Regions from separate parts of the Homo sapiens genome. Here region 1 is linked to region 2. A link means that fine-mapping ties the variant in region 2 to the expression of a gene that starts in the linked region. Tissue or cell type: esophagus muscle. Region 2 holds a variant in brackets; the other region holds the start of a gene. All regions are shown on one strand. Distances are from middle to middle. Region 1 holds the start of GALNT13 (polypeptide N-acetylgalactosaminyltransferase 13). Region 2 overlaps GALNT13 (polypeptide N-acetylgalactosaminyltransferase 13).

Evidence for each region.
Region 1: it holds the start of GALNT13, and the variant in region 2 is fine-mapped to the expression of GALNT13 in esophagus muscle (GTEx, PIP above 0.99).

Annotation. Positions count from the first base shown.
Region 1 is chr2:153,861,842-153,877,647 of GRCh38, reverse strand. GALNT13 (polypeptide N-acetylgalactosaminyltransferase 13) reads right to left here and starts at 5,726. Exons shown (of 13, transcript NM_052917.4): 1 at 5,345-5,726.
Region 2 is chr2:154,426,686-154,442,491 of GRCh38, reverse strand. It overlaps GALNT13 (polypeptide N-acetylgalactosaminyltransferase 13), which reads right to left. Exons shown (of 13, transcript NM_052917.4): 12 at 3,766-3,900. It overlaps GALNT13-AS1 (GALNT13 antisense RNA 1), which reads left to right. Exons shown (of 5, transcript NR_161181.1): 5 at 4,642-6,639. Among named protein-coding and RNA genes, the nearest start is that of GALNT13-AS1, 23 kb to the left of the region's middle. The variant C/G (reference allele first, on the strand shown) is at 6,430.

The DNA.
Region 1 (15,806 bases), 560 kb after region 2:
ATAATAATCTCAAGAGGAAATTAAGTCAGTTATTATGCTTCTAAGCTACATAATCCTCCTCATATGTCAAAATCCACTTTATTAACAAAAAAGAGGTGCTTTGCTTGTAATATCAAGGCAATTAATATAAGACAAGAGACTAAGTTGACATTTACTACTATCTTCAAGATGTTATTTGGATGATTTTTGATTGTGCTATGCTTTTAAATTCTTCTTTCTGTTTACAGTGGCTACTCACCACATGCATTACGTTCACCAATGTGTCAACAAGCAGATTAATCACACTCTTCCTAAAATGTTGTATAAGAGCTTAAATAAGATTTAAGTGACAATTCAATGTAGTGGAATATATGAAACAGAGTCCCAATTAATTCCTCTTCATGTTAAAACCTTAACATGATATATCTTGCACAGCCCCCATCTATCTTAACAATGAGCATATCTTTAAAAAATATGAAAGAAATCTAAGTATTTATTATGGACATTGTATTTAATTTTCTCACATAGTCTACAAGATGATAACAAATATGTTCATATCTATGGTAATAATAGTCATTCTTCTCCCTACATCCCTCTCAAACTATCTTGAGAGGATTAACCATTAACCTGGAACAATTTTTAATAACTGATATTTTGAATTGTGTTTGAGTTCATTTCTGAAGGGTAGGTAATTATGGTAGTGTACACATTAAGAGAGAGCCTGACAGTTCATGAGGACTCTAATTACGTGGACATTGAATGAAGTTGAGCCCTTAAAGGAAAAGCATGTCTCCCAACTTTAACTTAACAATTTAAATTTTAGATCCCATCAATCTCTGCAGTGATAACTTTTAAAAATTAAGAATTTCATTTAAATGTATAAGTCTAAAGACATACTAAAAACAGCTTGAAAAACTCATAGCTATAAATGAATTTAAGGACATGAGAGCACACAGTAATCAGAATCACACAGATGTCTTTAGCCACCTGTAATCATTTCTTGGTAATCAAGCTAACACCAATTAAATGTATTATAATAGATACACTACACTGAAAACACAGACACAGGTCTAAATATGAAATCAAGAAGAAACAAATATCAAGTGATTAAAGTCTGTTTGGTTTACACTGCTCCTCCCAAAAACTAGATATAATTGTTTATAATGCCCCAAACGGATGACTATTACTGAATTAAATGTATTCATTTTCATAAATTTCCTTGAAAAGCTAAATTTCACAATGAAAAACCAGACTTTTCAAACACAGGTATGCATATATTTGAATGGCAGAAGTCCTTCAACAATGTGCCTTGATAGAAATTGTAAACAGAAGTCTAATCTGATAAAATAATAAATGGTTTATCAAAGCAGACAGTGCCAGATCTTTAAATGTGATTTACGTTTTCAAACATATGCTTAGCCACTGTGTGTGTATGTGTGTGTGTGTGTGTGTGTGTGTGTGTGTGTAGTGTGGGGGGGTTGCTGTTAGAAATGTCATTAAATAGGTTGTCAGAATAAATATGAGTATATATATGTAGGACTTGATTTGATGTTTCACATGTGTTTATTTTGATGACAAGAGCAGAGGGAAGGATTTAGAACCAAAGCCCAGTTTAAATCCTTTGATAATTAGGCATATGGTCATTCAGACTTCAAAGCAGTGATCCTGTTAGATCCCATTAGATTTAAGATGTCTACATGTTCCTTCTGACAGGGACACAAATACAAGAAGGTGATGTACTAAGAGTCGCTGTCAAGAATGTGTTGTTTGTTGCAAGAGGTTTCTCTTTAAAATATCATGTCTAATAAGGCAAATTAGTTAAAGGTCATAACTATATGAAGTGTCCATTTTTAAAAGGACAATGAACACCTAACAGAGATATGTAGCATTATAATTTATTTTAGACAGTAAGGCTTAATTCTATTCCTACTTTATTCTCAAGCATTTTCTCGACTGTTATTATTCAGAAACACCAGGATTCTCTTCATCTGCCCATTCATAAAGAATAAAAATACCCATTTGTTACTGTTACTTCTTATCTCACCCCTTTCCTAAAATCCCGAAGTCTTTATAAGCTGTACAAGCTCTATTACATGAAAATGCTCCTGTTACAACTACTATTTCTAGAAATCAACTTGGCATGATAACAACATAGTTCACTCTGACATAACTGTTTAAACTGAAATGACTGCCCAGTAAGTTAAAAAGTTAGATGCATAAGTTAAACCTGTAAAACAAATAGAAGGTCTCTCAAACAATATCAGATTTTCCACCTTCATTATGTCTTTGCTATTTTTAAATATAAAAATTGGGTACAGTATCAAGTGATTTATAAATAATATTTTTAAAGAAAAATTGCTTTGAACATGCTCCTGCACCATACTCATGATAAATTAGCAACTATTTTAAGAGGTGACTAGCATATCATCAAGAAAGTAGTATTGCTGCCCATGGATTTCTATTATTACTTTGAATTAGGAGGCATTATGTTTCCAGGTACTTTAGGAAATTCTCACATTCATGCAGTATCGCACATCTCATATATATATATATATATGAAGCAGTAGGGGAATCCATAAATTATTTAGGGTAAGTGATCCAGCTTACAGATCAATATATAGCCCCCAAGTATTTTAAGCTGATATATCTGTTCTTTATATTAAAAGAGAGAACTTTTCACTTGTTAGAAACCACATGAAAGTATTCACCCAAAAATGATGCCATGTCCCAACTTACTTTCAGGTAAGGAGATTGAGAGATGCCACATTTCAGGGCCCCTCTAAACTCATTTCTTCAATTCTGCAATGACTGTGTTAAAGAACACCAGCCAAGTTGTAGACTTGCAAAAAGGGGCAAATTCAAGCAATAACATGAACTACAAAGAAGCAGAAGACCCCTGTTTCAATATCCCTTCTACTAGTTCTCAATTACCATTCATAAAAAATCTAAATGAAACCTCCCAAAAAAGGAGCGGGGAGGTGGAATTTAGCTGCAGGCTCCTTAGCATACCTGGTAACTTGGAAGCCTATGATCCGCTGCATGCTAATCAATCAACCAACAAGTTTTATTAAGCACTTACTAGTTTCCCCACACTGTCCTAGGGACTACATATCTGAGACAGCCTCCATTCTCACATTCCCACTCAGGACTTTCCGAACTGGAATTAATCTATACCAGCAGTACCCTATAATTCCTTTAGAAAAGCTTTCTATTCTTCCTCTCCAAAGCGGATCCGAGACACAGTGCCCCTACTTAAGCAAGTACCTTAAGCCCTGGAATGGGATAAGCATCACAGAAATGGTGAAATAAAAGCATTTATTTAAACAAGCAGAAGCAGCCAGGAAAATTCTCCATGGAATTGAAGGTGGATAGGGGCTAAAGGAGAGATGTGAAATCCTGGTTTATGGCAAACAGTGCAGAGAAATGCATCTTTTTAATGTTCAAAGTCTGCCTTAGGCTACGCAAATTCTCCAGACCTATCCAATTCCCAAATCAAACGAACAGGGTTTCAATATGAAGGTTCTTATTCTGCAGGAGACGTGGGGAAAGAAAAAAAAAAAAAAAACAGAGATTGCGGGAGGGGGGTGCGGGGGGAAAGAAAGATTAGTAATGTAATGCAAAAGTCATTCTTTGAGGAAAAGGAAAGGATGCGTGTAATACAAGGAGAATTATCCCGGAAGGTGAGAGGTCCAAAAGTAAATAACCAATAGGTTGACCTTACTTTTCAATATTCTCGAACCAGCAGGTTTCTTTAACACTAGAGGGCATGAACGCAAACGAGACAGAGAGAGAGAGACAGGGAGACAGCGAGAGAGAGAGACACAGAAAAAGAGAGAGAGAGAAAGAGAGAGAGACGGACTGAGACTCTGAGGAAAGGCAGCTTTCACATAAAGCTGAAAATATTCAAGGATACCAGAAATTTCAAGGGGGCTTTGGCAGCCAAGTGCCTTTAGCCTTGCGAATAAAACCTCTATGTTGTTATGTTGTTTCAGGGAAGGCTGACCACGATCTCTCCAAGGAAACCGCTTTCCTAAGCAATGAATGCATGGTAGTTTAAGGCAGGCATACCTCAGTCCCCAAAGCTCCTCTCCTCTGCTAGCAACACCTTTGCCTGAAGAAAGCTCCCACCCTTTCGAGGTTAGTTTCCCTGAACCCCAAAGCATCTATGTTTGCCTGCTCACTGTCCGTTCTTCTGCAGCTGGCTATAAAGGTTGGGGAGGCAGACTCTCCTCCTGGAAATTCAACTAACCATAGTCAAAGAATCGGGTATGCGGGAGGGGCTTGCGCAGCTTTCGCTGTCCAGAGTAGCAGCCTCAGTGCGCTCAGGTTCGCAGCAGCGCAGCGCCCTCGGACCCGGCAAGGGGAGCCTGCTGCGGTGCCCTCCACTCTAACCCCTTGCGCCCCTCCTTCAGGTCCACGACAGCCTGGACAAGGGCAGGCTGTCTCCTCCGCGTCCCCACTGACCCCGCAGGAAAATCTCTGCACCTGGAGATACCCATTAGATGCGCCAGGGCTTGCTCCCCTAACCAAGGCGCTTCGGGATCGCGGGGCTGGTGTTCGGGAAGACGGGGCAGAGAGATGACAGAGGGAGACAGAGATAAGCTGCGAGAAGCAGACACAGAAAGAGAACAAATGTTGCAAAACGGAGAGACAAAAGGAAAGACAGATTAACAGGGACACAGATATCCCAAGAAAGAAAGAGGGAAACAGAATAAGAGAAAAAAACAGATACATGGCCGGAGAGTGTGGACTGAGGGGACCAAGGCTCAGAAAGAGAAACAGAGGCAGAGACACACACGGCGAGAATGAGAGGCAAGAGGACTCTGAAAAAGCGAGGCAAAGGGGGCACTATACGAAGGCAACCGTCGAGGAAGACACCCAAGACCCAGGGAGCGCCTGGTGTCGGGTCGAGTAGAAACGCCCGCAACGCAGCCGGGGCTGCCTGCAGCTGGTGCGAGAAAGTTGTCTGGGCTTGGAGGCCGAGCCACCCCCGCGGAGGAACGTCACCAGAACGCAGAGGGGGCCAGAGCCGCTCCCCCCCCCCCCCCCGCCACCAACAACTCACCGGGGTAGCCAGAAAAGCAGAGCAGAAGGTGGGCGGCGGCAGAAAGTTCCGCGCCACGCGGTCCTCCCGCAACACCTGCAGCCCCGCAAGCGAGCGCACTCGGAGCTCCCGGGAGGCCGCGTCGCCAGGTCCGCCCGCGCCCCTGCCTTTGCCCTGGGACCGGCCCGGGGCGCTCGGCTCCGCGCCCCGGCACTCGCCGCGGGACTTTGCGGCACCTAGCCCCGGCACTCTGGCAGCCCAGAGGGAGCTCGTCCCAGACAATCAAGAGGAAAAGAGGGGAAGCGAGAAAGAGACGGAGACCTGCTATCCTGGCCAACGATCCCGCGAAGAGGGAACGGCGGTCCACACACGGGATTCAGCCTCAGATCAAGCCCAGCAGGCGCCGGCCGGCCGCGCCGAGTGCGGGGCTCGCCGAGTCCGCGCTCACCTGGAACCCGCGCCGGCCCGCGAGCGCCGCGCGCAGCCCCGGCTCCCGCCCGCGCCTCTCTCTTCACACTTGCCCGCGAGCAGAGGGAGCCGGCTCCAGCCTCGGCCAGCCCCAGAGAGGGGCCTTCATAGCGCAGCGGCGGGCTGAAGGGCTCCTCGAGCGCGGCCAGAGCGGACGCTGAGGCCGAGGAGGCGCCCAGAGCGAGCGAGGGCTGCTAGCACGTTGTCACCTCAGCAGAGCCGCCGCCGCCTGGTCACTTCTCCCCGGCCCCCGCCCCCCTCCCACCCCAGCCCGCCGCCTCCCGGTCCCTCCTCCTCGCGTGGTCCCTCCTCCTCTCGTAGCCCCAGCCTGGAGGCCTCTCACTGGGCTAGTATCATTTACGTAACCAGCACCCCCAGCCCTCCTCCCTCCCTGCTCCCGCTCCTCCCCGGGCTGGGGCGGTGCGCACCGAGCGCGCTCCAGCTGCTTCTGGAGCTGGCGCTTCTGCGATGTGCGCAAGTCCCGCGATACTTGGCAGGCACGGCCCCCAAGAGCAACCCTGGGGTCAGCTCCTCTCGCCGGAGGGCGCCTCGCGACCCCTGGCCGCTTTGGGGCCCCACAACGCCAAAGCCGGCCTGCGTGCACCGCGTTCGCCCAATGCACCAGGGAGCCTCTTAGAGGGGAGCTGGAGGATCAGAGACTGCCCTCGGGGAAAGCGCCGGCAACCCCACCCTTGCCGTCGGCTCTCCAGCCGAGAGATGCTGCGGGGTACTTGACGCTTCGGCGCCCTCCGCAGAAAGGACGGAGGTTGGCCTCTTGTTGGTTACAGTATCTACACCCTGGCAGGATCCTAGTGTTCTGGTTGGCGGTGACTACTGCCACCGAACGCACTGTAAGAGTACTGGAAACACAGAGCGCTTCCTTGTGGCTCTCAAATTTTTATGAAGAGGTAAAGAAAAAAGTGGGGCTTTGAATTCCTTTCTCAGGCAAGTAGGTATGATATTAAACACACACCCACTCCGAAGTACCTGGACGTATGAATGTCTCAGTTAATGTGTTGTACCAATACCCCCATGGTACTGAGTTTAAATACATGTAAAGATTTTAGAACAGTGCCTGGCACAAGGCAGAAACCTAAGACGCAGACATTATTAGCGTCTCAAAGACTTGGGACCTGTCCCCCACTGCCATGGGAGAGGAACTTTTCTAGGAAATTGGGATTGCCGAGTTCAAGTGCCTGCTTGGCAATTTATTCACTGTGGCTCTTGGCTAGTTTTGGCCCTTCGGGTGTCAGTTGTCTTGTTTGTAATAAGGGCTGACAGGGGTCCTTGCTTCTCACAGTGTCACTTCACACATCTTATAGGATGTTTTTGGCAGAATTGGGGGAGGATATAACGACTACATAAAAATATTAAACAGCCACGTTTGACAAACATATGATACTATTAATCATAATCTAGTATGTCAATGCCATTCTTGATTATACTCATGAAAGGCAATTTCCAGAGATATTATCTTTATATCTTTTCGTGAGTCAAGTATCATTTAAATTTCTATGTTAATAACTGTATTAATGTCTCCTCCTACATTGTCCATCCTGCCCTACCGTCAATTATGGAGCATTTACCAGAGATGCTTCTGTGCATGTGTGAGTACACAGGGTCCCACTCATAACACTCTGGAATGTCTCTCTACTGCTCTCTCTAGTGAATTCCAGTCCTAACATCAGGTCACTCACCTCTACATGGCATACTGAGAAAAACTGTGGACCAGGTAAAAGATTGGGGTTCTGATGCTGATACAGCTACTTACTAGTCCTATGTTTTTCAAAGACAAATAAGCCCCCATTCTTACATGTTTCATCTCTTAAAAAAAGGCGCAATTCCATTTTGCAGTCTTTGTGATAATATTTAACTTAGGCAGAATCATAAACTTGGTAAAATTTATTTGGGTAATTGGATATTTACGTAGTCCCAAAGTATCACCCTAGAAAGTATTGGCTTTTGGTGCATAACACACCATTCCAAAACTTATTAGCCCCAACCAATAAACATCTGTAATTTCTCAAAGCTCTGTGGGTTGTCAGGTTGGTTTCTGCCCTGGCTAGCTCAGTTTGGTTTAGAGATCTAGGATGGCTTCACTCACTTGTCTGGTGTGGCATACTTATTAGTCTTGAGGGTGTGGGACTCAGCTGCAATGTTTTGTCTTTTGTTTAATCTAGCCCATCATCCTTCAATAGGCTAGCAGTAGTCGTAGTTGCAGGGCTCCAAAAAGCAACAAGGGAGTGCAAGCTCCAATGTGAAGTACTCTGAGATTCTGTGGACGTACATTTGCTGGTGTCTCATTAGCCATGGAAGTTACATGGCCCAAACATAGATAATATAGTCCATGTCTTGATGGGAGAAACTATAATGCCATATTTCAAGGAGAATGCATACACAAAAATAACTTGAGGCTGTTTTTATAATATACTATAGATCCTTAATTACAAACGAATAATAAATTACATGTAGTGGATAAATCTGGTAAACATCACCTTAACCAACTGACCAAGGTTAAAGTCACCAATAATGGGACCAAGTGATATCATGAGCCTCATGATATGATGCACTGAGAAGTACATAACATTATTGATTTAGGATTCCAGATTAAAAAATGCATAATTGAATGCAATCACGAGAAAGCAAAGAAAGCCTTAAATTAAGGAAAATTCTACACAATATCTTGCCTATACTTTTCAAAAATGTCACTGTGATGAAAGTCAAAGAAAAGCTGAGGAAATATTCCAGACTAATGGAGATTTAAAAACCATGACTACTAAATGCAATGTGTAATCCAGAATTGGAGAGCAAACTGGGAATAATATCTATTAATATAAAGAGCATTACTGAGACAATCTAATTCAAAATATTAATAAAAACTATAATATCTAAACTGTATGACTTTTATTTATAATCAAATTAGTTTTATATCAATATTAAGTGTCCTAATTTAATTGTATTGTGATCATATATAAGAAAGCCCTGGATCTTTAAAAAATATAATAAAATATTTTGCAGTAAAAAGAACATAGAGGTTGTAAGGTCCAGAAATACCTATAGAGAGAATGATGATGCAAATGTGGCAACCTTTTATAACACCATTGGTAAATTTTGGTGAGGGGTATGTGTTAATTCTTTGTAGTAATTTTGCAATATTTCTTGAAGTTTAAATACTTTTTTAAAAATCAGGTAGTTATCATTATTTACCTCATAAGAATAATAACCACAATAATTTATCTGAATGAGTGTTGAAAGTTATTAAAAAGTCATATTTTTTCAAACAGAAAGTTTGGCATTTATCTTTAATCAAAGTGGAGCTATTGCAAGTATTTGCTTAGATAAATGGTAAGACCAATACTGTACAATTCTTGGCTATAAGGCCAATACAAGGGCTACCAGGCCAAGAATGTCTATTGGCCAATATAAGGCCAAATGTATAGGGCCTTAGCTACAGAGTATACAAAAGACAGGGATATGAGTTTAGCAGCTACAATTGTCCATTATGTGATTAACCAAGGCGCTCATTCTAAAGGGAAATAAAGGGTGAGATAGTTATGTCTTGCTGAAATTAAATTACCAGGTTTTGGCAAATTATTAGGAATGATGGATAAAGGAAAATGTATTATATAACTTTAAGAGATTAAGATTGGATGAGTAGGATGATGGAGATGCCATTATTAAGGGACACTGAAAGCAATAACTTTATTTTCTAAAATGAAATCTAATAATATTTTCTTCTAATTATAACATTTAAGTGGCTTCTCATTGATTTTAAGAAATTGTCTAAAATCTCTAACATGCCCTATAAGAACCTTTATACTCTGGGGCTCTGCTTACCTCCTTTGTACTTACAATGAGCTAAGCACTGCAATAGGTTTTGAAGACAAAGAGGAAAGTAAAGACAGCCTGCACAAAACTTAGGGTTCAGTCATACATCCCATGAATATACATTGAGCACTTACAGAATGACAGTTATTTACTAGGAACTGGGAATACAGCAGTGAGCTAAGGCTAATGCTCACTGCTATATTCCCAGTGCCTACCAGTGAGAAGAAGAAAATGCCTAGCACTGTCTAGCAGTGAGAAAAAAGATATAGATCCTGCCTTCATGAATACTACATTTTGCTGAGGTATGTCCTAACCCAAAGGTCTGCAACCCCCGAACCACAGACCTATGGCAGTCCATGGCCTGTTAGGAACTGGGCCACACAGAAGGATATGAGGGATGGGTGAGCCAGTGAAGCTTCATCTGTATTTATAGCCACTCCTCATTGCTCACATTACTGCCTGAGCTCCACCTCCTGTAAGATCAGCAGCAGCATTAGATTCTCTTAGGAGTGTGAACCCTATTGTGAACTGCACATGTGAGGGAACTAGGTTGTGCTCCTTATGAGAATCTAATGCCTGATGATCTGTCACTATCTCCCATCACCCCCAGATGGGACCATCTAGTTGCAGGAATACAAGCCGAGGGCTCCCACTGATTCTACATTATGGTGAGTTAGATAATTATTTCATAATATATTTCAATGTAATAATAATAGAAATAAAGTACACAATAAACGTCATGTGCTTAAATCATCCTGAAACCATCCCCTCTCCCAGTCTGTGGAAAAATTGTCTTCCACAAAACTGGTCCCTGGGGCCAAAAATGTTGGGGAGGGCTATCCTAACCAAATAAATAAGTAGGTGTGTATTTACGTCAGGTGATAATAAATTCTAGAAGAAAATTGAAATAGGCTAAGAGTTGAGCTTTTCAACTCATGCACCACAAATAGTTTATAGATATGCCATAACATATCGATCACTACACCCATCAGAAGTAGCCAAGTAGTGTAGCCTCAAGTTGCTAGGGCCCGTAATTAGATAGCCTGGATCATAAGAAACTTGATAAGAGCTTCTTGGAGAATGGCCTGCATGTGCAGTTCAAAGTATAGCCCATTGTGGGTGGGAAAGCAAGGAGGTTGGGCAGAAACTGCTAGTGGGAATAGCTCCAGCTAATAACACAAAGATTTAGCAACATAAAGATTAAGTAATTCTATTTCATATATAGTTGATTTGTTATTTTAGTGGTAACCATGTCAGCTGCAGATTGACTGTTCTTATAATGCACGGGCATTCTTCATATTCAAGCTTTATCATTATGTTGAATAGATTTGATAAAATCCATGGATAGCCACAAAAAAATTTGAATCAATTAATGAAAGAAAAGTAGAGATGATATATTTTAAATAAGATTTTAACTGATGTAAATATTTGGTCATAGAAGCAAATGTTTACAATCTTTCTCACCTATACTTGTGCAGACAAATTTTCTCATCATTTATGATGATAAACCTATTACACAATCATTTAAAATGTCACAATCAGTAAATAATATAGCTACTTCAAGCATAAAATCTTTTGTTAAAATGTTGACTTTATGAAAGCAATATCTCATTAAAAGTTTTAAAGTTTTATTTGTTTTATTTGGAAGTCTTATGATTCAATATATCTTATTATTATAGGTTTTGTAACAATAATTTCATGACATGAAGAAAGTATAATTAGTTTTAAACTAAGCTTTATACTAATACACTCAAATTTGCTCTAGTTTATCTTATTATCCATAAAGCCTTATATCATCTGTCATTTGCACCAAACACAGTGGCAAATTTACATTTTTCCATGACGGTGATTTGTATATATTTTCTCCACTATATAGTAGGATATATGAGAGCAAAAAAAATAGATTTATTTGTTTATAAAGGGAGGTGGTTGTTGTAACTTTATTCAAAGCACAGTGCCTTTCGTACAGTAAATTCCTGTTGAATGGATAAATAAATCCAACCATTTATTTTTTTTTATTATACTTTAAGTTTTAGGGTGCATGTGCACATTGTGCAGGTTAGTTACATATGTATACATGTGCCGTGCTGGTGCGCTGCACCCACTAACTCGTCATCTAGCATTAGGTATATCTCCCAATGCTATCCCTCCCCCCTCCCCCCACCCCACAACAGTCCCCAGAGTGTGATATTCCCCTTCCTGTGTCCATGTGATCTCATTGTTCAATTCCCACCTATGAGTGAGAATATGCGGTGTTTGGTTTTTTGTTCTTGCGATAGTTTACTGAGAATGATGATTTCCAATTTCATCCATGTCCCTACAAAGGACATGAACTCATCATTTTTTATGGCTGCATAGTATTCCATGGTGTATATGTGCCACATTTTCTTAATCCAGTCTATCATTGTTGGACATTTGGGTTGGTTCCAAGTCTTTGCTATTGTGAATAATGCCGCAATAAACATACGTGTGCATGTGTCTTTATAGCAGCATGATTTATAGTCATTTGGGTATATACCCAGTAATGGGATGGCTGGGTCAAATGGTATTTCTAGTTCTAGATCCCTGAGGAATCGCCACACTGACTTCCACAATGGTTGAACTAGTTTACAGTCCCACCAACAGTGTAAAAGTGTTCCTGTTTCTCCACATCCTCTCCAGCACCTGTTGTTTCCTGACTTTTTAATGATCGCCATTCTAACTGGTGTGAGATGGTATCTCATTGTGGTTTTGATTTGCATTTCTCTGATGGCCAGTGATGATGAGCATTTTTTCATGTGTTTTTTGGCTGCATAAATGTCTTCTTTTGAGAAGTGTCTGTTCATGTCCTTCGCCCAGTTTTTGATGGGGTTGTTTGTTTTTTTCTTGTAAATTTGTTTGAGTTCATTGTAGATTCTGGATATTAGCCCTTTGTCAGATGAGTAGGCTGCGAAAATTTTCTCCCATTTTGTAGGTTGCCTGTTCACTCTGATGGTAGTTTCTTTTGCTGTGCAGAAGCTCTTTATTTTAATTAGATCCCATTTGTCAATTTTGGCTTTGGTTGCCATTGCTTTTGGTGTTTTGGACATGAAGTCCTTGCCCATGCCTATGTCCTGAATGGTAATGCCTAGGTTTTCTTCTAGGGTTTTTATGGTTTTAGGTCTAACGTTTAAATCTTTAATCCATCTTGAATTGATTTTTGTATAAGGTGTAAGGAAGGGATCCAGTTTCAGCTTTCTACATATGGCTAGCCAGTTTTCCCAGCACCATTTATTAAATAGGGAATCCTTTCCCCATTACTTGTTTTTCTCAGGTTTGTCAAAGATCAGATAGTTGTAGGTAGGCGGCGTTATTTCTGAGGGCTCTGTTCTGTTCCATTGATCTATATCTCTGTTTTGGTACCAGTACCATGCTGTTTTGGTTACTGTAGCCTTGTAGTATAGTTTGAAGTCAGGTAGCGTGATGCCTCCAGCTTTGTTCTTTTGGCTTAGGATTGACTTGGCGATGCGGGCTCTTTTTTGGTTCCATATGAACTTTAAAGTACTTTTTTCCAATTCTGTGAAGAAAGTCATTGGTAGCTTGATGGGGATGGCATTGAATCTGTAAATTACCTTGGGCAGTATGGCCATTTTCACGATATTGATTCTTCCTACCCATGAGCATGGAATGTTCTTCCATTTGTTTGTATCCTCTTTTATTTCTTTGAGCAGTGGTTTGTAGTTCTTGAAGAGGTCCTTCACATCCCTTGTAAGTTGATTATATATCTAGAAAACCCCAGTGTCTCAGCCCAAAATCTCCTTAAGCTGATAAGCAACTTCAGCAAAGTCTCAGGATACAAAATCAATGTGCAAAAATCACAAGCATTCTTATACACCAACAACACACAAACAGAGAGCCAAATCATGAGTGAACTCCCATTCACAATTGCTTCAAAGAGAATAAAATACCTAAATCCAACCATTTATTGATGAACAGTTAAATCTTTCCTTTAAGACTTTCTGTTTTTGATCTTTCCTTCCCCCCATCAGACCTTTTCTCTCCATGTTTTGAATTCTTGATTGGGCAGTAATCACTCCTGTCAAAGAATTAGGAAAAAACAACTAATTTTCAGCCCACAATGATATTTCAGTACCACGGAGAGCAACAAATCACTGCCAACAAAATTTGTGGTAATGCCAGCCTGACTATGTACGCTATTTAGCATTCATTGACAGAGAAAAGTAACTAAATAGAAAGTAGGAAAATATGGAAAAGACTTATTATACTACTGTCCAGAATTCATAAACAGAGATAAGTAACCAGGCAGAAATCAGGACAATGTGGAAAAGTATTGGCATTCAGTTATGGCAATGTGGATTTGCTGCTTTGTAACTTCCGTGTACTTCTGCAAATCAAAAGGCAGATATGAAGTAAAATGTTAAGTGCCATCAGGAATCAATGTAAGAAGCAATTACACATACACAATCTCTCAAGATTTTTTCACTTACATATACCATATGGTCATACCTCTTTTTGAGCGTGAATCCTAGGAAGGTAGAGACTGTATCATTGCTTCACGGGACTGAGTACAATATCTGGCACATAGTACATAGTTATTATTTCGTTAAATATATATATTAAATTACATAATTATGTCAAGCATGTTTCGATTGCTTATTAAAGCTTATGAATAATTCATTAGAATGGCAAAACTGTTTTCATGTTTAAGTATCTAATACTTCACTATTTAAATTTTAAACATGAATGTTTATCAAAAATAGCTCAATAGATAATACATTTTATTGGTTTTCACTTGGACTTTATTTTAAAGCTGTACTTAAAATATCTCCCTCTTATATGCAGCATTTTCTAGTGTGTCTTAATTAGTTGTTTGAGGCTTTACTCATAATTCCAGCATACTAACTATAACAATTACGTCTTTTATCCAACAGATAGGTTATATCTGACTCACTCTAACTTCCTAAGACAATAATTTTACATTTGTGCATTGATGACTTATAGAGTTAGAGTGAGTCAGATATGGGGAACAAAGAAAAGTATGAAAGCCTCTTTTTAAATTTAAATATTTAAAAGGATTCCAAGAATCATATTGGATTTTCATCATAAGCCTTATTTTGCTTCACCTATCTCATTCAAAGTAATTATTTATATGTAACATAATGTACTAAACAAAACTTAAGTGTACCAGACAAGAAAATTTTAAGTAGACAAACTAATACATTATTCAATTTTAACAGAGAAGAAGTAGAAGGTATTAAGTGGAGTGTCACAAATTTTGGTCCTGCATCCCATCTAAATATCTGGTTACGATATGGATAAAATTCACCTATGTGGCCAAATTGATGTGAAGAGGCAATTTTCTCAACATTAAATGAAAAAAGAATGACTCATCCAGTAGGAACAGTTGACTACCATTAACTATGAAGAATTTGGTGAAACTTAGCTAACTAAATAAAGGGATATTCTTTATTTTAAAATATTAGAAGTTCATATTATAGTACAGATTAAATATAAGCATATAACATATTAGAATTTTTCATTAGCCTAGAATGCGTAACAGTCCATTAATTCAGATGTACGTAGTAATTATCTTACGTATATGAAAAGGAACCATACAAATATATATATGCTATAAAATACATCATATGTATATTTCTTTGGAAAATATAAAGCGTTTTACAAATGTAAGGTATAGTAAAATAAGAATAGTATTAAAATTTAACACATAAAAAAGGAAAAATTGTAAAATATTTAAATGATATGCCTAATTTATGAGTGTTAGGAAAGAAATATTAGGGTGGAATATGTAACACTATTTTGAAGTACTATTGCCTTGAAATAGTCATCAGTATAATCCAAAAGCAATGAAATCTATTAGCCATAAACAACATAGTATTATTCTCTCCATGAAGAATTCCATAAACATGAGAATTCACCCTTCACAATTTATAGTATAGGATATTAAGAGTTACTCAAATTTATAAAGAAATAGAATTGAAAACATTTAAGTGTATTTTTGCTCCAAGATACATGAAACAGTTCTGCAAGATTTTTTTCCAGGCCTTTAGTTATATCAACTTGACTGACACCTTTGTGCTGCTTCTCTGAACAAAAGGTTATTATATAAGCATGTGTGTACGTGTGTGTGAATCTTTAAATTGTAGTACAATTTATTTTTAAGAAGCAAATACCCAGAGCTATCTTTCTAAGTGTGTAATTGCTATAAGATTATTGAATTTGAAAAGTTCACTTTTATAGCCACCTCTCATAAAACATACAATAGGACTAAATATGTCATGTGACACATATGTTGTTATATTATCTTTTGGGATTAGAGTGGTTAAAAGTAAAAACTGAAAATAGTACTTCCTCCCCACCAGTCTGCAAACCACGTGAGCCACCATTAGCTAGATTTTAAAAATTGATATAAGACCTAGTGTCATGGCCTCTAGGCATCCATTAAAGAAAGGAGGCTGGGCACGATGGCTCATGCCTGTAATCCCAGTGC
Region 2 (15,806 bases):
ACAATTTTGCTAATGATGCCCAGGATGCCCTCAATTCAAACAGGTTAGGCCACATATAAGATGACAGTGAATTGAATTCGTGGTTATTTAAGGACTATTTAGTTAGGGGTGTGAGAAACTACACTTGAAATCAAAGTTGACCAAAGAAGTGCATTTATTACTAACATGTGCTTAGTTTCATTCAATTACAAGGATAAGCAATTAGATATTATATTATGAATATGTATAGCTGAAGTTTGTAAGCAATTAGAGCAAAATGACAAAGTAGTTTTATGACTGCTTATTTAGCTAAATGGACCATATTTATTGTAGAACACCTTTCCCCCTATTAAAAAAATGAGAAATTTTAGTTCAAAATTTGGCATAACAAATAACTGATAGCATTTAGCTATTCCATTTGAAATACTGTATATTTAGCTTATTATATCTTAACCACTGAAAGAGAATCTAATTATTTCCAGTTTTTCGACAACATCAAGAGGCAATGTAGTGTAGTAGAAAAATTGCTGGATTTACTGCCAGAATCTGGCTGTGCAAACTTAAACGAGGCATTTACCCTATGCTTCATTTTACTAATGTGAAAAATAGAATAACTGTCTTATAAGACTATTGTAAGAATTGCATGAGAAAACAGATAAATACGTGTTGAACTGTATTCCTTCTCTTTTCCCCCACTCACCTAAGAAGTAAACAAAACCAAAGTAGCTGGATAGATTCCATCTTTTGAGGCTTCATGACACTGTTTCCATTTTTCTCTGGATATTCCAACAATCTTGCTTCTATTTATGACTTTCTTTTCTAAGATTGAAAGGACTATGGGAGATAAGGTGATGGAATATTTGTGCTGTTCACATGGTGAGATTCACAATTGTACTGATAGCTAGCTTGCTTGGAATACTTTATTAGGACCTGAATCCTAGCTCTGCTGCTAGCGGTGTAATCTTTATGCTTTAGTTCCTCCTGATAAAGGCTTAAAGGAGAGAACTTTAAGGTACATTTCAGTTCTGTAATTCTATGAACTCCAACAATTTTTATTCTGCCTTGAACCTGCACCACCTCAGAGATTTTTCAAAGAATAATTTTGTCCTTGCCAGCAAAAGATAAAGAATTGAGTTAAAGTAGTAAGCAGTGCGCATTTACTTTCCACAGGTTGGAATATGAGAAGAATAGAACCACTGAGCAATTATTCCTCTTTCTCATCTCAACACCTCTTATCCTTTTGCTCCCTTTCCCTCTCTCTGCTCCCCTCTGGAGGCCTTGCCATTTTCCAAATTGTATTCATGCCTTTTCCTAAATTTGTAACATTCTTTAACCAGTGTATAAAAAGACTATGGAAGATACATAGATATTTGACCCTGTCCTTTTCAAATGTAAATATGTATATGAATGATCGGAGATTTTGTTAAAATACAAACTTGGATTCAGTGTGTTTAGCATGGGTTCGGATCCTGCATTTCTAACAAGTTCCCAGGTGATGCTACTACTCCTGGAATCACCCTGTGGGTAGCAAGGGGTGGAACCATTCTGTGAACTAAAGAAACCCTAAATGTAAAACTGAAAAGCATAGTAATAAATGTTATATTTCAATTTTGTTTAAAAAAAATCCTTTTTAACGACCTTCTCAAAAATATAATCGCACATCAAAGCTGAAATTTCCAGAAAGGCAATGTATTATTCCTACAATTGCTCTATTCTCATGTCATTTATTAGATTATGACCTATGCATTTTTTAATTTGGCAAAGTGCTGTCATTAGACAATGTAAACATCACTAGTTAATTTTGAAAACATAAACATATAAGAGAATTTAATTAAGCTATATAATTCAGATGATCAAATTATTTAAAATAAAAATTTCTCAATATTTATGACATTTTATAAGCTTTTTGTGCGTGTGTTCCAAAGTCAAAGTAAACATGACACAAAATATTATAGTGCTCTGAAATACTGCAACAGATAACTACTAGTCATCCAAAAGAGTAAATTTATAGAAATCATTTATTTATCTACCTATGTGAAGCTACCTATTTTTTTTTTCACTTTTTACTTAAAATTCCTTAGTATTCAATAGCATTGCTACTAGCTGACAGAAAATGTAAACCAAAATATACACCAAATTGCTAACAGTAGTTATTTGAGAAATGAAAGAATTTGAGTTATGACATTGTTCACTCAAGAGTTATGGAAAAGTTTAAAGATTAAAAGTGGTATTCTAAAATTCCACACTGCTTGCTTTTATAAAAATGTACACGATCATTCCCCTTTCTTAATAAATATATTCTAGATTTTCTTATTTTTAGCATAAGCTCAGTAGAGCCCCAGGTTCCTGGTAGAAACGGAACAGTAACAACAAGAAGAACAAGTTTTATTTAAAAACAAATATCACTTACAGGATTTCTACTATATCTGTACATTTTACTGCACTTTTCCTCATAGAAGAGAGTACTGATGAAGGATTTACCTACATGTATTTTGCAAAGGCACTGTTTTCTGTAGGCTTAATATCAAGGATGGTACCAATAAATAATAGTTGAAGAGAAAAAAATTGGTGGTCAGACAAGGTGAGTAAGATATAGCGAAGGCAGTAGCATCTTAATCACACTGGTACAACATAGGAAGAATTCTCAGTGTTTGCCCTCAATTATGGCCCAGAAGATGATTTTGTGTCCTAAGATCCTGGTAACACTGTATGAGTGTTAGGCCCAAAATTAACCCTGCACAACCAGTTTCAAATCCTATGAGAATTCAGTAAATTTTTCTAGTATTCAACTTAAGAAACTACAGACTCATGCAAATATTAAAACGACATTCAAAAAGGTTTTTAAAAGGTCTTGCTAAAATATCAACAATACCAAAAACTCTGTAGATTGGTTTTTAAAATGTTATTCTTGTAGAAAATTTTAGGCTTGCATGGAATACTGCATCTGTGAGACTCATTTACCTCTATAGTAGTATTTATCTTTTAAGCAGAACGAAGTTTAGTTTTCCTTTTAAATAAATCACCTACCACTTAATAATGTGGGAAATGTAACACAGACAACCAATTCATTTTGTTAATCAAAAAAGAAAACTGAAAGAAATGAAGCTGTTTTCAAGAGTAAGCTTCGTTATGCAAAGGAAAATATTTCTTTTTTATTAGCTCCATCTGATGGCTGATCTGGTTTTTACACACTGCCTGGAGATAAATTTCCAACAGTAATTTTGTGGTTTTCTCTCCCTCTTCTCTGTCAGAAAGGTGTGCTATATTGAGAAGAGGCTACTCAACTTTTTATGTGACTAATTAGTTTACTGAATTCTGCAAAATATTTACAACTGTAAACAGTAAAGAAATCTTGTTAATCTTGTCAGATATTGTTCCTTCCAGTTGAGGAACATAAATGTCAGTGATTAGTATTGTAAAATTTAAAATTTGAAAATATGGACATATTGTCAATATTATCCTGTATGCACATCTTCATACAAACCTCTCAGATAGGCTTAGCTTACCTCTTGCCTAATTTATGTTTGGCATGTACATGGAGATAACAAGTTGTCATACACAAAACTGATTTTATTGTCCTCATTCATATTTTATATTAATGGACCAATTTGGTGAAACCTGTTTATATGATATGCCATCCTAATATTACCGGATATGAGCCTGCATGCTTGAAAATCTAATTCTGCCAATGTAGATAAAAACCAGCTTAAGATTTAAATGTTGAATGTTGAAATATATAACTGAGCTTAAGCATCAAATAATAAGTAAATTAAGAAAATACTATACCTCAGCATCATATTCCCATAACTGATTTCCTCTCATATGGTGGCATTTTAACATGATTACAGGTCCATTGAGTCTAGAAACATCCAAGCACAAGTCATCGGTTCGGATTTCTTTGTCAGCAGTGTAAGAAAATACCTGAAAATATAAATTCAGCTAATAAAAAAAATGTATGTTTTAAAATGTCACAATAGAGCAGATCTATCCAGGGAAGCTTTCGTATCAGATAAACTTGTGTTTTCAAACGATTGCTGGTATGTTATCTTGAGAAAGCTAATTCATCTCTTTGAGTCTTTTTCCTCAACTGCAAAATAGGGACAAAGTCATCTGTTTTATGATGTTTTGGTGAGGCCTCAGTTTAACAAAACAAACCTTTAAATACCCATTATTTGCTGGCACTGTAGTTCTTTCATGATACTTGCATTATAAAGCTCTCAATAGGTTAAGTAAAATAAAGTTTACAAACTGCATGGAGCTCAGTGAAGGCAGTCCCTGTTCCTACTATTGTATGACCAGTTCTCCAATTCTACAATGTCATTTTTTCATATAGAAGTTTAAATCTTTCTTCTGATAACATAAGTACATCGTGTAAGTTTTATTAAATACTGTCAGTGAGCTTCTGAAGGTTGTAGAAGTATCTTCTCTAGAGATCTTATTAAAGGTAGGCTCTACACTTATCTCTCTAATATGGTTTGCCTAAGCTTAACTACATCAATTCTTCTGAAAATATCCAAGAAATGTCACGGTGGATTATGGACTCTTTGTTAGATAATTCAATTGAACTATAATAATCTTTATTATTTTGTTCCTGGTGTGAATAATTTATTTACAACATTGATTATTAAGGTTTCATGAGGGTTTTTTTTTTTTTTTTTTTAGATGGAGTCTTGCTCTGTCGTCAGGCTGGAGTGCACTGGCGTAATCTGGGCTTACTGCAACCTCCGCCTCCCGGATTCAAGCGATTCTCCTGCCTCAGCCTCCCGAGTGGCTGGGACTACAGGCATGCGCCACCATGCCGGCCTAATGTTTTGTATTTTAGTAGAGACGGGGTTTCACTATGTTGGCCAGGATGGTCTCAATCTCCCGACCTCATGATCCACCTGCCTCGGCCTCCCAAAGTGCTGGGATTACAGGTGTGAGCCGCCATGCCCAGCCTCATGAGGGTTATTAAGCACATAATTATAGAATGTGTTTTCTTCTTTTAACTACGATAAGCATTGTTCAGTATTCTGTGGGTTTTTCTTTCTCCTTGCAATGTCAACAGAATACATAATGAGAAAGGTCATGTCAGGGTCTTTTTGTTTCTCAAAGATATCTGATGAAATCTGAGGAAGTCAGCTTTACAAATAACATAAACTCTGGAGCTCCGTAAGCTGAACGAGTTAGTCTTGGAAGAGTTGCCTCTGCAGCATTGCTACTCAGAACTTCTATGAAAACCACAAGAAGTGGTGAGAGGAAGCGGCAAAATCAATGACAGAACACAAATACCCTCTTCTGCCAACCGCTTAAAAGGAAATTATGGGGGGCTGGGTCGGTGGTTCGGTGGCTCACGCCTGTAATCCCAACACTTTGGGAGGCTAAGGCGAGAGGATTGCTTGAGCCCAGGAGTTTGAGACCAGCCAGGGAAACATACAGAGATGTCAGCTCTACAAACGATAATAAAAAGAAAATTATCCAAGCATGGTGGTACACGCCTGTTGTCCCCACTACTTGGGAGGCTGAGTGGGAGAGGCTGAGGTTGGCAGATTGCTTGAGCCATGATCACACCACTGCACTCAGTCTGGGTGACAGAGCAAGACCCAGTCTCAAAACAACAACAACAACAACAACAAAACCCAGAAAATTCTTCACAAAGGTTATACATTTTCTCAATAATATACAAATTTGAGAAATGTGAAGTACATTTAATTGAATTATGTAAAATATAACACAGACTTCATATATTCAATTCACAAATAAATTTTCTAGGTTCTTTACTTTTTCATGTTCATATGTTTTTTATGAAGAACATATGGTCACCTAAGAAGAATAAAATAAAAACCCATCAAACAGAAATATTCATATCCTCCCCAAACCGTATTATCTTAAACACAATTACAAACTTATTTAATTACACAAGTGAGAATCTTAAGCTGAGAGAAGAAAATTTCTAGAGAAATTTCTTTTGTTCATTATAGGATTATTTCAATACTGAAGGATAGTCTTCGACATTAGAATTGCTTCCTTTTAAAGTGTACAAATGCCAGTGTAAAAGGAAACATCATAACATCCATTTCAGCCTTAATTTTCTAATGGCTCAGGCCGTTTTTATACAGTGTATTCTTCTCCAGTGTCTTAAGATAGTTTGGAAACAGTACCTGTTGAACCTTTCAGAGAGCAGTCTACCATATATCCCTTGATCCTCAATTTCTAATTTAGATTCATTTGTGGTTGTTACAGTTATAAGTAACGTACATTTAAGAAAGATATATCTGTAGAACAGTTTCTGCACTTATATGTGTATATAAATTATATGTCTGCTAAATTTTTTTTGGCCTTTGTACTTGAAAAAAAATTAACAGATGTTAAAATATTTGGCTCACAAGCAATGTTAAAAACAATCTGTAGATAATGCTTCCTTATTTTTCTTGGATTAATGTAAAATCAGGATTAATTTGCTTTGTGTAC[C/G]TGGGAAATAATCTCGTTTGTATGCTTGTTTCTAGGATGTCTTTTACTCTTCATAATAATAAAAAAGTCAGTGCATGTCAGTATATACATATCCTTCTTGATTTTATCTGGAAATTATTAGGTTTGATCTCAATTATTTATCATTTATATCCATTAGCTTTTTAACCCATAATTGTCATTATTAAAATTTTTTTCATGTTTACTACTGTGAAAGGTTCATGGAATTCACTTTGGGTATACTGAAAACATTATATGTGAAATACTTTGCAGAGATTCTAGCACACAGACAAAATTCAGTAGCTGATATTTAGAGTTATTATTCCCAGTCTTGGAGTTAATCCCAAATTGAGGATTTCTTCCCAATACTGCCAAGAAATTTTAGTATAAGGGTCCAGCAATGTTTGCTCTTGCCTGTCTGTGCTGACCCTTGGCCACTACACAAGTCCCGAGAGAGAGTTTATAATACCTGATGACAGATGTTTCTGATAATTTCAGCATTGTATTATGACCCTCTAGATTAACTACTTATGAGTTCCTTTATGACTTTGGGGACAATCTCCAAATCTCATGCTGTATTTCCTAGGAAGCAGCTATTCCCTATAGCTGTTGCTTGTTTTTCCATCTCACTACTCCACAGACACTCTCAGTTAGTATGTGTAAGGCCCAGCCTGTCCTTGCTGTGGTTGAAACCTTTATGCCTGACTATGTGAGTTAAAATATTTCTAACCTGCACACCAATGAAGCACTTTACCTTAAACTATCACATATACTGATAACTACACGATACAAGATTGATTCATTCATTAATAAAATCTCATTGTACATTCTCTTAAAATAATGGAAACTATTCTTCTTCCTTTTCTAATTATCTCTCAAATTGCTTTATCATCGGTTACCAATAGTTAGTAAAGCAGAACTGTGTTACATGAACCATAGATTTAGCATATGTTTCCATTTGTTCCAGTGGCAGCCTGACTTTAATGACAATTAATTGGTTCAAAGTCTAATCACTTTGATTAAGCTGACTAGAAGCAGGGAAAAACAATCAATTTCTGTGCCTTTCCTTCCATTATAAAAGAGGAAACAGGGAGAAAGTTAACATTAATTGAACACTACCTTTTTTAAAAAATGTGTTCTATGCTTCGTATATATTACATTAAATAAATTTGCTCTATTCTTCTATTGTGCAATTACATTTATATTTCTATGAATGTATACCAACTTACAGTACTGCAAAATGTAACATGTAGAGCTCTTTGTATGAATCCTATGGATTTAGTAATTTATAGTGTTTTTAAAATTCTGTTTCACACTTAATGTTCATGTTGTCTCAACTGTAAAATTATGAGCTATCTAGTATCACATATATTCTCATGTAGTCCTTCAGTCAAGCTAGGTCTACAAACAACCACTAAAATGGCCATTTTTGAGTCAACTCTTTTAATCTCAGCTATCTTATAAGACGGTGATAATGATACAGGTGATGATGTCTATGCTCCATTTTATGGACCTTGTTGATTATTATGCCTTAATCCCAGCAGTTTGGGAGGCCCAGGCGCATGGATCACGAGGTCAGGAGATTGAGACCATCCTGGCTAACACGGTGAAACCCCGTCTCTACTAAAAATACAAAAAATTAGCAGGGTGTGGTGGTGGGCGCCTGTAGTTCCAGCTACTCTGGAGGCTGAGGCAGGAGAATGGCGTGAGCCCGGGAGGCGGAATTTGCAGTGAGCGGAGATCACACCACTGCACTCCAGCCTGGGCTACAGAGCGAGACTCCTCTAAAAAAAACAAACAAACCAACAAACTAATCACTGTAATAACTCAGTTTTTATTGTTTACTGTTGTATTAGTTCACTAGGGCTGTCATAACAAAGTACTATGGACTGGGTGGCCTAAGCAACAGAAATTTATTTCCTGACAGGTTTGGAGGCTGGAAGTCCAAGATCAAGATCTTAGTAGAGTTGGTTTCTGCTGAGGCCACTCTCTTTGGCTTGTAAGAGGGATCTTCTCCATGTGTCTTCACACGGTCTTCCTTCTCTGTTTGCATGTGTCCTAATCTCCTCTTTTTATAAAAACACCAGTTACATTAGATTAGGGCACCCTAATGATGCCAAAATTCTTTAAAGACTCATCTCTAATATGGTTACATTCTAAGGAACTGGGGGTTAAGACTTCAACATATGAATTTCTAGAAGAGCACAATTCAGGCCACAACACCACTAACCCTTTACAATGTATTGGAGTAGATAACATATCTTTCCTTATTCCTAAATGAAAAACATGGTGTACATGAATTTTTTTTTTTTTTTGGCTAACCTGTTTAGATCACCTTGGGATTCAATTCAGAAATTAGAATATACTGTTTAGTAGTACTAATCAAAACTCTAAATGTAATGTAATATCAAATAATTCCCCCTTCTTCACATTGGGCCTAATTTATGTTGGCAGCCTGCAGAGGCAAAGGCTTTTTCTGTTTTACGACTTAAGCTTTTTTTTTATTCCTCACTGTTCCTACCCACTCCTAAATTCACCCAGTCTGCTAATCAATTTATTTTTTATTTTTTATTTTTTTATTCTTCCAGAGTGGCAAAGCTGTAAGAGAGGTCTTACTTGAACTGGTTTGTATAACTCCTTCCTGTTCTCTGGCCTGCCAGAGATTTAAAGCTCCCTGTCCTGAGACCATTTGGATTTTCTTAGAGATTCCCATCTCTGAGCACCTCTTAACTGAAGTGCAAAGAGAGAGGACAATGCATATTTTATAAGTGAGCCACTTTTTGTGAAAACTCTGGGAGGCAGGCTAACCTTAGGCAGTGCAGTCAGCTCCCTGTATTCAGTTGTCACAAGCCAGCCTTATCATGTGTGAGTCAGGCCACAGCCTGCCATATTCTCAAGTACCAGAAGCATATACCAAGCTCTCCAACTGGCATCCTGCATAATTTGCAGGTCCCAGTGCAAAATGAAAATGCAGAACTTATTTTTATAAAATTACCAAGAATTCCAAGATTGTAGGGATCTGTGTGATTGCATGGGTTGCAAGCTCAAGAACTTCCTGGCCTTGAATCCTCCTCTTACTGGAAGCTAGAATCCCAGCCCATCTCCTCTAGAGGGAGGGCAACTAATCTCTCCAGGCAAAATCTTGTAATCTTCTTCATATTCTGATACTTTCCATTATGGGTTGAACTGTGGCTCCCCAGATGATATATTGAAGTACTAACCACCAGTACCAAAAAATGTGCACACTTATGGAGATAGTCCTCATGATGAAGTCATACTGGAGTAAGATGGGCCCTTAATCTAAAAGGACTGGCGTCCTTATAAGAGAATAGAGACAGAGAAAAGACAGCCATGTGATGATGGAAGTAGAGACTGGAATGATGCATCTACAAGCCATGGGACACCAAGGATTGTTGGCAAACACCGGAAGCTAGAAGAGGAAAAAGATGATTCTCCCTTAGGTTTCAGAGGGAGTATGGCACTTCTGACACCTTGATTTCAGACTTCTAGCCTCCAGAACTATAAGACAATAAATTTCTATTAAGCAATTTACTAGGTTTCTATTAAGCAACCTAGTTTGCAGTAATTTGATACAACAGCTCCAGCAAACCAACATACCTCCTTTTCCTCCTCATGCTGGTTGAAGTGTCTAAAGTCACGAAATCAGATTTCCAAAGTGTCTTTGCAAATTTTGCACAGGAAAATCTGATTTTAGATTGTCATTGCAAATTTTGCATAGGGAAATCTGATTTTACATTTCACATTTATTGTATCTTGGTATCTGGGCTGAAATTTTAACATCCAGTTATACTTTCCAATAGTATAAAATCAACCATTTTCAAAATACTTTTATATTATAGCTGTATCTTCATAAAGGTGTTTTATAATGTGACTAGGTGATTTCCTGATTTTATGTATACTTTATTGAAGTCGTAATGATTTCTGCTTCTGAATTTATATTGTAATCAAATGAGTACTATCTATAATGGATGATACTACATATAAAGCCAATTCAAATCTCAATTCCTTTTAATCTCTGTATTTTTCTTTTCATAGATGATGTTTTAGTCCGTTCTCACACTGCTATAAGGACATACCTAAGACTGGGTAATTTATAAAGGAAAGAGGTTTAATGGACTCACAGTTCCACATAGCTGGGGAGGCTCACAATTGTGGTGGAAGGTGAAGGAGGAGCAAAGGCACATCCCACATGGTGGCAGGCAAGAGAGCGTGTGCAGGGAAACTGCCCTTTATAAAACCATCAGCTCTCGTGAGACTTATTCACTATCATGAGAACAACATGGGAAAAACCTGCCCCCATGATTCAATTATCTCCCACCAGGTCCCTCTCATGACACGTGGGGATTATGGGAGCTACAATTCAAGATGAGATTTTGGTGGAGACACAGCCAAATCATATCAGATGGTAAGCATTCTTTCTTTTTCACGTACATGTATGGTTTGTTCTGGATTTTTCTTTTTAGGGAGAATGTCCAAAGACATTTTACAATTCTTCAAATACCTAAAACATCTAAATAATTTCAAGGACTTCTGTGAGAAGGATCTAAAATATTCTGTTAAATTAATTTTATATAATGAAAGACTAGGTGTCCACATTTTTTTTCCCAGTTGTATTATGTTTAAAATCCTAATATATGTATAGTTACTTCTTTTAAAATACTCTTTTTTCATGACCCTTTAGAAAAACTACAAACAAACGTTTTCTCAAATCTCTAGCATGAGCCTGTGCTAATGAAACCTTGTTCCAGCAGTACACGTTACAAAGTAAGAAAGCAAAGGCATTGCTGTATTATTGGGACCTGAATCTTGTCTCTTTCTGCAAAGATCTCAGGAATTAAATGCCCTTTACTTGCTTTATCTTGCCACAGGGTTTCTTTCTTTCCTTTTTTTAATCCATAGATGAAGAGGGGTGTGAGTGTGTATGTATGTACATGCATATACACAGGCAAACTTCAGAGATACTGTGGGTTCAGTTTCAGATCACTATAATAAAACAAGTATCGCATTTAAAGCAAGGCACATGAATTTTTTTGTTCCCCTGTGCATAGGAGTTATGTTTACACCATACTGTAGCCATATTAAGCGTGCAGTAGCATTGTGTCTCAAAAAACAATGTATATTCCTTAATTAAAAATATTTTATCGTTAAAAATGCTAACAATTATCCTAGCCTTCGGTGAGTGGTAATATTTCTGCTGATGGAGGGTCTTGCCTCAATGCTGATGGCTGCAGACTGACCAGAGTGGTGACTGATGAAAGTTAGGTGGATGTAGTAATTTTAAAAAATAAGACAACAATGAAGTTTATCACATCAATCAACTTTTCCTTTCACTAAAGATTTTTCTGTAGCATGTGATGTTTGATAGCATTTTACTCATGGTAGAACTTCTTTCAAAATTTGAATTAATCCTCTCAAAACCTGACACTGCTTTATCGACTTGAGTTTATGTAATATTCTAAATACTTTGTTGTCATTTCAACAGTGTTCACAGCATCTTCAATAGGAGTAGACACCATCTCAAGAAACCACTTTTCTTGATCATTGATAAGAAGCAATGCTCATTCATTAAAGTTTTAGCTTGAGAGTGCAGAAATTCAATGACGTCTTCGGGCTCCACTCCTAATTCTAGTTCTCCTGCTATTTCCACCTTATCTGAAATTATTTCCTCCACTGATGTCTTGAACCCCTCAAAGTCATCTAAGAGGGTTGGGATTAACTTTTCCCAAACTCCTGATATTGTTGATATTTTGACCTCCTCCCATGAATCACAAATGTTATTTACGGTATCTAGAATTGTGAATACTTTCCATAAAGTTTTCAATTTACTTTGCCCAGATCTATTACAGGAATCACTATGGCAGTGAGAACTTTAGAAGACGTATTTCTTAAATAGTAAGACTTGAAAATTGAACTTGCTCCTTGATCTATGGTCTGCAGAATGAATATTGTGTTAGCAGACATGAAAACATTAATCTCCTTGTACATCTCCAACAGAGCTCTTGGGTGACTGAGTAAATTATCAATGAGGAGTAATATTTTAAAAGGAATCTTTTTTTCCTCAGAAATAGGTCACAACAGTGGGCTTAAAATATTTAGTACACCATGTTGCAAACAGATGTGCTATAATCCAGGCCTTGTTGTTCCATTTACAGAGCACAGGCAGAGTAGATTCAGCATAATTGTTAAGGGCCCTAGGATTTGGGGAATGGTAAATAAATGAACATTGCTTTTGACTTAAAGTCACTCGCTATATTTTTCCTAACAAGAGAATCAGCCTGTCTTTTGAAGCTTTGAAGCTAGGCAATGACTTCGCTTTTCTAGCTATGGAAGTCCCAGATGGCATCTTCTTCCAATTGGGTGCTGTTTTATCTACATTGAAAATCTGTTGTTTACTGTATTCACATTTATCAATGATCTTAGCTGGATCTTCTGGATAACTTGCTGCAGCTTCTCCCTCAGCACTTGCTACTTCACCTTGCCCTTTTATGTTATCTTTCTTTCCTTAAAACTCATAAATCAACTTCTGCTAGCTTCAAATTTTCTTCTGCAGCTTTCTCACCCATCATAGAATTAGAGTTAGGGCCCTGCTGTGGAAGAAGTTTTGGTGTAAAGGCATTTCATAGCTTGTTTGATCTTCTATTCAAACCACTAAAACTGTCTCTATATACGGAATAAGGCTGTTTGCTCTCTTTTCATTTATGTGTTTACTAGAGTAACACTTTCAATTTCCTTCAAGAATTTTTCCTTTCCCTTCACTATTTTTCCAGCTGTTTGGTGCAAGATGCCTACTTTTTGGCCTGTGTCGGCTCTTGACATACCTTCCTCACTAAGCTTAATCTTTTATAGCTTTTGATTTAAAGTGAGAAACATGTGACTTTCCTTTCACTTGAACACACAGATGCCATTGTAGGGTTATTAACTGGCCTAACTTCAATATTGTTGTGTTTCAGGAACAGGAAGCCCTGTGGAGCGAGAGATAGGGAATGGCCAGTCTGTGGAGCGAGAGATAGGGAATGGCCAGTCTGTGGAGCAGTCAGAATACACACAACATTCATCAGTTAAGTTCACTGTTGTTATATAGGTACAGTTTGCAGCACCACAAAACAATTAACAATAGTTAGTGGTGGCAGGCGCCCGTGGGAGGCTGAGGCAGGAGAATGGCATGAACCCGGGAGGCGGAGCTTGCAGTGAGCAGAGATCGCGCCACTGCACTCCAGCCTGGGCGACAGAGCGAGACTCCATCTCAAATAAAAAAAAAAAAAAAAAATCACTGATCATAGATCATCACAACAGATAAAATAATGATGAAAAAGTTTAACATATTGGGAGAATTACCAAAGTTTGACACAAAGACATAAAGTGGGCACATGCTGTTGGAAAAATGAAGCCAATAGACATGCTCCATGTAGGGTTGTCACAAACATTCAATTTGTTAAAAAGTGCAATATCCGTGAAGCACAATAAAGCAAAGAGTAATAAAACAATGTATGCCTAGATACATATACATGTATTCATTTTTGTTTTATTTTTATTAAGGTATAGTTTACAAATGAATATATATTTGAATTCAAAATGTCTACATGTATATTTGGTGCAGCTCTATCATATAGGTTTTGATTTCCCTACATTTAAATTATAAAATACTTTTCTTGTGCGAGTTCATCAGGACAATATTTACTATAAAAGTTCACAGTTTGATATATATCGAATTTTGCCAACTGCTTCGCTAAGTGAAACTGAAGCCAAAGAAGTTACAGGATTCCCAATATGTCCGAGCTGCTTAGTGACGGAGGTCTCTCTGAACCTGAAGCTCTGCTATTTGCCACTATTTGTCCACGGGCTTAAACTTCTCTTTACACACCCATTATTTAGTCATTGTGGACCTTTGCATCCTCTGGGAGATCTCTTTAGGTATTTGGAACGCAGTCAATTCGAAAAGTGTGTCAACAAAAATCCAGAAATAAAACTTGTAAGAAAATAAACTTGTCATAATGATTTTCTCCCTCATCTGTAAAAATAACCCAAGAAAATTTGTATTGAAATCAAAGAGATAACTGTTTAGCAACAAAAATTATACCTTTAGCAATGTGAATTATTTTTTAAAATATTATCTTCCTCCATATTCACACCATCCTGAAGTCAGCATGGAGAATTCATAGATGGTATTGAAGTCACCAGTGGAGCTGCCAAGTTTATTCCCAGACAGTACCTTTTCCTATGCCTGAATTGATTTCAGGTTTCATCTATAGGCTGTTAGCTCAGCGGTTTGTTCAGAGGAGGGTCAGGAGGAGTAAGTAGCATCTAGCTGTACACTCTTAACTTACTCTTACACATCTACATGATATCACTTATTTTTTACAGCTTTAATGCTCTAAAATTCTACAACTAAAAACAGGATGTGGGTATGCATCTTATGTTCAGTATTCTCATCCTGTCCTCAACATCATCTGTAAAGCATTCACTCTTTCTGCTTTCACCTCAATATAACAATATATAACAATGTGATGCTTAATTTGCACTCAGCAAGCCAGCTTATTCTTCCATCCCTGACCTCGTATGTGCTGATCACATCACTAGGACTATCCTTCCCACTCCGCTTTGCCAAGCAAAAGGCTAATCTCCTTAAAGTCTTCATACATTCTTCAGTTTTTTCATTTAGCACTCTCTTACCATTTTTACCCAGATAGCTTATCTGCCATTGTACCGCAGGTAGGTATCATATCTGTATATATTTGGAATTGGACAATACTGCAACAATGGGCTCTAGAAGATTACACAAACCTAAGCTTGAGAGGTATCACTCAGGACCAGGGTTACTGGGAGTCTTTGTCAAAATGTTGGATTCCTCATCTGAGAAAAAGGATAAATATATGGCTCCTCTTTCATAGGCTATTTTACAGACTGAATAAGCCAAATTCATGTAAGCTCTAAACAAAGCATTTGCCTCAAGTAATATCTAAATATTAGTGATTATCTGTGCAATATTCATGCATAAAATCTACATTTGATTATATTCTATCTCATCTTTTCCTATTGGTTTTTATATTCTTTTAAAAAAATCTTGTGGACTCAATAACAATGCTAAGGATATATTTTGAATCCCTATGGAAACTGTTCTAGTAGGAGAGTAGTGTCCAACAATTATGAATTGAATTGAAATGAAAATAATTTGTCTTTGAAATTCCCTAGTCTTTATGGGAAACAGAGCAACAGTGCAAGATAATACAATAAGCCACATGCAGTAATATAATAACAAAATGTGACTGACATTTCTATTCTACTTCATTGTTAAATCTTCCCATTTTAAACATTACCAATGTTAAATTTTATGTAATTTTAATACTTGACTCTGCCCTGAA